Linked DNA regions of Homo sapiens: region 2 is reported to be linked to region 1. The links are microRNA targets in miRTarBase. Many come from high-throughput screens and were not tested one by one. Region 1 holds a microRNA gene; the other region holds the end of a gene's coding sequence.

Region 1 (4,526 bases):
TGGTTGGCAAGCAGCATGCATCCAACTCTTGGCTTCTTCCGGCAAATCAACTAACTAACGCTCAGTGTGCAATTCCATATTTAACAGGACTTCCAGCACTGAATGTCAAGTCTGGGGAAGAATCAGTGGTGTTCTTGTCAGTGTTAATCAGTGGTACCTGAAGAGAGGTTTTCTGGGTTTCTGTTTCTTTAATGAGGACGAAACACACCTGGTTAACCTCTTTTCCAGTATCAAATCCCATCTTGGAGGCCTTCTGGTCCAGACCTCAGCTTCAGGGAAGGGCGTTACTCTCAGCTCCAGTCCACTGGACAGAAATCTATGGTTAACCACGAAGCCTGTGCTGTATTATTTTGACTGATGTCATCTGTTCTACTAACCCCAGTGTCCAATCCGTATTTAACAGGACTTCCAGGACTGAATGTCAAGTTTGGGGAAGGAATCAGTGGTGTTCTTGTCAGTGTTACTTGGTGGTACCTGAAGAGAGGTTTTCTGGGTTTCTGTTTCTTTATTGAGGACGAAACACACCTGGTTAACCTCTTTTCCAGTATCAAATCCCATCTTGGAGGCCTTCTGGTCCAGACCTCAGCTTCAGGGAAGGGGTGCTGTGGACATAAATAAGGAGACACGAGCAAATGGCTGATCACTAAGCGTGCCCCATGTTTCTGAATTTTGCCACCGATTGCGCTAACCCTCAATGTCTTATCCCTTCTTAGGAGGACTTTTCAATGTGATGGCAGCCTGGGGGAAGACAGTGTCACCACGACAGTGTCACGGAACATGCAGGTGAGTTGTCTGTGGTTGCCTTCGTTGTGCTCCCAACGGATCGTGTGTGTAATTCAGGCTCTTTCGGCATCTGACCCTGCTGTAGGGGGATGCCTCGTCCTTGCCACACTCAGTGATGGGCTTGAATGAGCCCAGCCCACAGCAGGGGAATGCCAGCATGCCCTGGACAGATAGTGCAGGTGTCCTGCACGCCTGCCCCTAGCCTGCAGTTTATTCTGAAAGGATGTCCTGGATATAATGACACCTTAGGGAAGAAAAGCTGATTCTGAGGTCAAGAGGAGACCTTGGGGGCCCTGGAATTGGCCCAGGTTGAGACCTGTTTATTTCTCACAGGAATTGTGGAGTTGACTTCCTTTAAATCTGGAGGAATCCTTGATGTCATGCCAGCTTGAAGGGAGGGCATTGTCACCAGCCCTGATCCAGGGGAAGGGAGTGGATGGCCCACCACGGGGCATGTACCTCCCCAGGAACACACCTGCTCCACTGACCAGCACATCTGACCTACCCTCAGGGTTGTGTTTCTGCAGATGGTCCTTCTTTGGGGTGCTCAAGGAGAGGTTTCCTTTGGCATATCTGTTTCTTTTATATAAATCATTTCTGTGGACCACTCTTCAGTATCAAACACCAGTTTGGAAGGCTTCCGGATAAGACAGTTGTCAGGCCCAGGCCAGGGTGAGTGGGCCGAGATGGGTGCTTCCCCTGTTCTAAGCGTCCTGTCTGGCAGTAATGCTTGGTGCCCGATCCTTTCCAGGAGGACTTCCTGGAGGTGATGCCAGCCTCTGGGGAAGGAAAAGGCTCCCTGCCAGCTCTAAAGCCAAGGCACAGAAGTAGGTTTTGCTGGTGCTGCATTTGTTTTGATGGCACTTAGCTGTGACTGTGGGTCCTCGGCTCATCTGTGGCATTTGGGGATGGGACTGTGAGGGAGGAGGGCCTCAGGTTCTGGAGAAGGGCCAGGTATTTCCATGTCAACCCTGCTTTTTATAACCAGAGAGAACATATGAGGTAGCACCAATGACCTCCGCCACCAATCCTTCCTATTAGCTGATACCCAAACACCGTTCCTTCCAGCCGAAAAGAGCCCTCATAAAGAGAGGGCAGAGAGAGTGTGTCAAGGCCATGTGACAGCAGGCAGTATGCTGTTGCCTCCGGGGTATCCAGGGTAGGCGGCTGCTGGGTCCATGTAGATTGGGTGCTCTGCTGGCTACGGAGGGGTCAAAGGACAGGTGGCAAGGGTGCAGAGCCGCAGCCTGGCCCTGGGATTTTCTTCTCAGACCTCTGCTCCGGGGTCCACCTTCGGGGGAAAAGAGGGCACAATTTTACAACTTTGTAAGAGGAAACCTGAAGTTTTCTGACCCCTGATTCTCCCCAGCCCTGTCAGGATTGATCTAACTCTCTGTTGAGATGCAAAAGAGTCTGGAGATAACAGTACTCCCCCCACCATGAAAACAATTATTGTCAAAGGAGTTTTATAGCAAACAGAAAATCCGGCCCAGAATTGGCTAAAACATTTGGGGAGCTCACATCAGGAAATGAGATTCGTTTTTATTTCTTGATTCTGCTGAATTGGATTGAAGGCAGCAGAAGGCATTAAGTGGGATTTGACCTGGAGGAAGGTGGCCTGGCGGTGCTCCTGGCTTCCCCGACCCTCCCTCCCTAGCCGTGTGTAGCAGGCACTCACTTTGCTTACAGCTTCCTCGGTGCCATGTATCTGTTTTTGGAATCACACCTTGCCTGGAAGGCTGCTTGGACCCATGGCCAGTGCCACACAGGGGCCTGGGCACCGGCTAACTGCAGACCCAGCCACCTGCTTCTTGACCACAGAATTCGAGATTTACTCATGAGCTCTCTTGACGCACTGACTTTGGGATGCAAACCATTATGACTAGGGGCACTTCCCGTGGCCTGGACTTCCACAAGGAAACCCTGGTTCCACCGTCAGGAAAGCTCCAATACCTGGAAAGAGGTTGTACCTAAAGTGTTCTCTGTATTGGCGGAAAATGTTTCCCGGGCAACCTCTTTTCATTGTGAAGGCTTGAAGAGCTTTTGGCTGACTTCCCAAAAGCAACCTGGGACACGCAAATAGAAGCCATCTGACGTCTGGTCTACCCAGTGCCATGTAGATTCGGGGAATCTTCCTGGAGGTGACACCAACATCGGCGAAGATTCGGCAGTTCTGTTTTGATTTTTTTTGTTTGTTTTTTGATCAGTGCTAATCTTCGATACTCGAAGGAGAGGTTGTCCGTGTTGTCTTCTCTTTATTTATGATGAAACATACACGGGAAACCTCTTTTTTAGTATCAAATCCCACCCTGGAGGCACTTCCTGTTCCTGATGCAGCCTTCAGGGAGGGACGTTGCCGGCTCCACTCTCGGTAGGCGCAAGCGAGGCTGACAGCGTGCCATGCGTCGTGGGGGTGTGGCTCTCAGGCCCCAGCCATGGAGGGCCCCTAGGAGGGGAAGCTGAGTTTGGAGAAGGGCCTGTGCTTCTGTGGTTGAAGGAGGTTGCTCATTGTGGTGTTTGTCTATTTGTTGATTCACGGTGGGTGGCGCCTCTTCAGTGTGAGATCTTGCTTGGATGGCCTTCTGGACACGCTAGCAACGTCATTGAAGGGACGATGGTGCCATCTGCTCTCCAGGGTAGCTGAGGGGATGGTAGACCGGTGACGTGCACTTCATTTACGATGTAGGTCACCCGTTTGACTATCCACCAGCGCCCGGTCCATCTGTGGGATGACATCTTGGTGCACATGGCAACTTCGGAGAAGATGTGGGAGGACGTGGGGCCCGTGGGACTCTGCAGGATTTTAGGAGGGGTTTCCCTTCGGGGCCCCCTCCTCCTACCTCGTTAAAATCAATATAAGCAATCATCAGTGAATAATCTCTCTTTTGGTTTCAAATCCTGCCCAGGAGGGCTGATAGTCTGGCCACAGACAATGCCAGGATTGCAGAGGCCTGGGCTTCAGTGCCCCATCAGGGAAAGTCCCACCCCACACCACATGCTGACTGCAGGAGGTGTGTGTGTGACCTGGTACAGGGGTGTGGTTTATCCTCGGAAGGGTTTGAGGAGTGTTGTGTGTGTGCAGGACAGGGCAGGCGTTGGGACAGCTGTGGTAGTGAGGGCCACTTTATTCTGTGCTACATGAAGAGAGGCTGTCTGACAAAGCTTGCCATGTGTTTGATGAATGCTACGTGGCCCATCTCTTTTCCATAGGAGGACTTCCTGGACATGAAGCTAGATTCCGGCAGGGCCACTGGTGTCAGCAGCACTCCTGGTGAGTCGTGGATGGGGGACTGAGGAGCTGGCAGCGTGATTGAGATGAGCCCTTCCTGTGTTGGGACCACTCAGAATCCAGCCGCTTCGTGGGCAGCGTTCAGTCCATGCTTGGGGAAAGGGCTTTGTTGCCGTTGCTCATCTCTGTCTGTTGTTCAGCTCTGCTTGCCTTACGAGGCCCCAGATGCCCTGGATGCCCTCAGTGTCAGACTGCGGAAGATGTGTCCCGGCTGTGACACGCGCTTCAGGGGAGGGCTGTTGGCGTCAGGTCCATGGAGAGGTATGGGAGTGGACATCTTGTCTGAGAGCAGACATTCTATTTCGGGTGTGTGTCTTGGTCCGTTCATCCTCAGTCTCCCTCCCATACCTAGGATGGCTTGTGGAGAGAAGGCCTGCCCTGAGGGCTGAAGTTGGGACCCACAGCTCTCACCCCGGCCTTGGTATGCTCCCATGGCTACGGCAGAGGCACAAGA
Region 2 (4,000 bases), not on the chromosome of region 1:
GGCGCTGTATTTACTCGCCCCTTTCCTTCCCCTCCATGAGAACCACTCACCCTAGCTGCTTCTAGTCAGCCATCTTGGCCACTCCCTCCCCGCCCCCCACCTTTTTTTTTTAAATGCTTGAAAACTATTTGCAAAAGAAACCTAGAGATTCTCATGGTTCTTTTAAGATCTTGTTGGATGGACTGTGAAAGTGGGATTATTGTCTATGAATGGTCAGCTAGACTGTGTGTGTGTGGAAAGGGTGAGGGAATTAACATTTATTGAGCAAAAGGGCATGCTAGTTAAAATCATTGTCTCTGGGGACAGATTTTTCTGGGTTTTAATCCAAACTCTGACACGTATTAGCCGTGTGACCTCTATTTTTCATTTGTAAAATGGAGATGGGATTGTTGCGGGGATTAAAAGCACTTACAACAGTCCAGGATATAGAAAGCACTGTGTAAGAGCTGGCTGTCATATATTAGTCATCAGTCATCATACTTAATAATCACAAAATTGTTAGAAAATCCTGTGAGGTAGGTATTTTCCTTACCATACCCATATGAGAAAACTTAAGCAAGGAGAAGTCAAACAAAGTTACCAAAGTCACACAATTACGGAGTGACAGAGCCTTTAGACGCTGCCTAGTCCAAGGCTTTCATTTCACAGAAGAGAAAACTGAAGTTCAAAATAGGAGAGGGACATGCCTGAAGTCATTTAGTGAGCCAGTGACAGAACTGGGCCTAGAACTCAGCAGCAGGACTCTTCCTGTCAGTAGTTCTCAAACTTTGTCATGTGTTACAATCCTGCAGAGGACTTGCTAAAACAAACTGCTGGTACCCATGCCTAGAGTTTCTTACTTAGTAGGCGTGGGGTGGGCCTTGAAAATTTGCATTTCTAAGGAGTTCTCAAATGATGCCACTGCTGGTGGTCTGGGGACCCTACTTTGGGAACCACCACAACACACCATAATTCATACATCTTTTGTTCTTTTCATCATGGACTACACAGTGTGTGACCTACAAACACTTTCAAAGAAATGGGAACCGGTGATGAAAACCAAAGAAAATTACATATCTAGCAGCAAGAAGGTACGGTGACTGACCAACAGTCCTGGTTTGTGTGGGACTCTCCTACTTTTAAAATGGAAAGTCCTGTAGTTCTGGGCACAAGAGGATGGTTGGTCACTCTAGATGAAAGCAAACAAAAGTCAGTGTCAGCTAAATGCCAAACGAAAAAGGACATACATACAGAGAATGTGGTAACTTCTGGTGAATTTGTTTGAAAAGGACCCATTCATTTATTCTTCCAACACATCTGTATTATAAAACTACTATCCATAAGGCACTGTGTTAGGTGCTGTGTTCCTGACCCTACAGATCCCATTCCACCATAGCAAAAGGTAAAAGTGACTCTACAGTGAGCTTGGTAGACATAGACCCATGCTTATATACTCAGGGACACCTGGAAGAGATATAAAAACAGAAACATCTCACATAGGAAGTTTTCAATGCATCGTGATCAGGACTCAAATAATCCCCTTCTCTTTTTCTTCAGTGTACTAAAGGGAGCACATTGTTGAGAAGGACCGGTTGCAAATTTCCAAAAAGGAGAGTAAAATAATTAATGAGTCAAGGTCTCAGGAGAGACAGAAGGTAAGGGGAGTCCTTCAGTAAGTGGGGAAATTGATTTGTTTTGTGTCCTCATCTCTCCAGGGCCATGAGCATGTCCTTTGCTGGCCATAAGTCAATGCTGATGACCTCAGTTATAGTGTAATCTTCAAGGCTAATTTACGCAAAACTTCAGAAATGGTAAACATCCTCATGAAGACTAATGATGACATATTTTAGGAGTGCATAATAGTAGGTATAGAGAAAAAACTGCAGGGTAAAATGTTATTGCTGTTCTTATTGCTAAAGGGCATACTCCTTAAGAACCAAAGTTAATTATCAGTCCTTTGACCTAAGAGGAAAACAAATTTCAGGGACTCCCCTAAAGATTCCTATGTAGTACAAATAAAATGCCAAAATATTTTGGAACACATTTTGGAGCACTGGATAGGTCAATAAAATAATGTGTAAATTGCCAAATGTGATCTAGGAACTCCCTGCAAACATCAGATTAGGCTCTATTCTCTATCTGAATACTGACTTTGCTTTGCTTTGTAACTCCTATCTTCACTAATAATGCCTTTTCCCCCCTCTTGTGTGCATCCTAGCCTATATTCTCTTTCATCATTCTACAGTGGTCAATGTGGTTATTGTACAGCTTCACTTTCAATGAAAGCTGAGGGAAAAGAAGCCTCATACCCTGCCCCCCACCCGCCCCCGCCAATACGTAAAAGAAGCCATTTAAAAAATAAAAGCAGCAAGCTACTAAATTTGACTCATTCAAATCTTGGCAATTAGCATGTATAGTATGTTATGAGAGAGAGAGAGAGAAAATTAGCAGAAATGGAGGAAAACATATTACATCCTAAATACCACCAAATTGCCAAAATACACATTTGGGTAGTAATCTCCAGAGAACTCTCTGGAGGCACAGCATCTATCATGCTGATTTCCCTGAACAATATTACAGAATAGCCCTGTGTACTTTCTCTTGGGGGGGGAGGTGTAAAGAATTATCATATGGAACCTCACAAGTCTCTAAAACCTTTCTGCAATTATCCCTCATAGGATTACCACACTGATGAGTTTGTTCAACAGGCGCTGTTGTGACTTCCTAATTTAACTCCTATAGAGATGATTTGTGTGGAAGATAAAACACTATATTTGAACTCAATTCCCACCTTATCCCTGAGCTTATGCTACCAAGCAATTCTTACAATGTTTGGAGTTCTATTAGACTACAGAGAAGAATCTAGGGTTTCAGCTAAACCCTTTAATCCACAGGCCTAGGTAAAGGACTGTCTCAAGGTAGTCGCTAGCCCATGGGTTCTCAAAGTATGGTCTGAAGACCCCTGGAGGAGTCCCTGAGACCCTTTTCGTGGGTCTGCAGATTAAAAATTATTTTGTATAATAACACCAAGATGAGTTACATTCAATTAGGCATTTTTCTTTTGAAATTAAGCAGACTTTTGGAAACTAAGATGTGCATAGCCCTGTAGTAGGCTAAGTGGAAGTTACAAAGGCAGTAGTAGCTTTTTTTCCCCCTCTCGTTATCTCATGAGGATACAGAGGACTTTTCCAGAGGCTACATGACATATGGTTATGTCATCTCTCTCATAGCTGAGGGATGTGTGCTTCTGTGTTCTTCTTGAGCTTTAAATATTTCTCAGTCTTAATACCTAAAATAATTAGTATCAATAGATAGAACCCACACCCAAGAACTCCTTGGGGCCTTCAATAACTTTTAAGAGTGTTAAGGTGTCCTAAGACCAAACATTTTGCAAATTGTTGCTTTATCAGGATTTTTGTTATTTCTAGAATGCATTTCTTTCTAACTGATCTACTTGGGAAAAAAATCGTTACCTCATGGCAATTATTGCTTTCCTATCAATATGGAGATTATATTTCTGAAGGAGACTGACCAAAATTATATTAAAAGGTTTAAATCAAACAAGTGGATCCATGTTATAACATGAGGAAGAGAGCTGCCCCACTAGATGTCTGACATTAGATAACTCAGAGTCCCGCCTCTCCAACAAGTCTCCCTTACTAGAGAAACGGACAGATTCTGTTTTGTGGGATGGGATAAGGAGACAATCTGAAGTAGAGTTTGACACAATATTATTCTGCCCATATGAAATTCTGGTAGCCAGGGTGCCAGGTGTATTCATAATCCAGATGCTGTCAATTTTAAGCCTGAAGCCCCAAGAGGCGAGCAGTGTTTAATACATCATCTCTTGTTAAATAGCAGCCACACAGTTGGCGGTAGCCAGTGAAGCATTCCCTGCCATGTAGGACACGCCAGTTGTCTATAAATAGGACCTGTGAATGGGCCAAAAAAAAAAAAAAAAGAGAGAGAAAACACTGTCAGAAGAAGGACAGACCAAAGGAACCCTAAGTCAGAAGAGATC

What was found. Region 1 holds the annotated microRNA hsa-miR-494-3p (UGAAACAUACACGGGAAACCUC, at 3,049-3,070, shown strand). A microRNA usually pairs through its seed, bases 2 to 8, with sites in the 3' UTR of a target mRNA and lowers its output. Matches are read on the target gene's strand: a 7mer-m8 pairs with bases 2 to 8, a 7mer-A1 pairs with bases 2 to 7 and ends in A, and an 8mer does both.
Region 2: the mRNA of TMLHE is a reported target of hsa-miR-494-3p. Seed matches in the 3' UTR shown: 7mer-m8 at 1,464-1,470.

What each region holds. Positions count from the first base shown.
Region 1 is chr14:101,026,633-101,031,158 of GRCh38, forward strand. MIR494 (microRNA 494) reads left to right here and starts at 3,002; the gene lies at 3,002-3,082. LOC124903407 (mucin-2-like) reads left to right here. Exons shown (of 5, transcript XM_047432049.1): 5 at 1-4,526. It overlaps MIR329-2 (microRNA 329-2), which reads left to right and starts at 468; the gene lies at 468-551. MIR1193 (microRNA 1193) reads left to right here and starts at 3,420; the gene lies at 3,420-3,497. It also overlaps MIR329-1.
Region 2 is chrX:155,487,756-155,491,755 of GRCh38, forward strand. It overlaps TMLHE (trimethyllysine hydroxylase, epsilon), which reads right to left. Exons shown (of 8, transcript NM_018196.4): 8 at 1,256-3,911. The coding sequence ends at 3,780. TMLHE-AS1 (TMLHE antisense RNA 1) reads left to right here. Exons shown (of 4, transcript NR_039991.1): 3 at 1,537-1,634. Among named protein-coding and RNA genes, the nearest start is that of TMLHE-AS1, 23 kb to the left of the region's middle.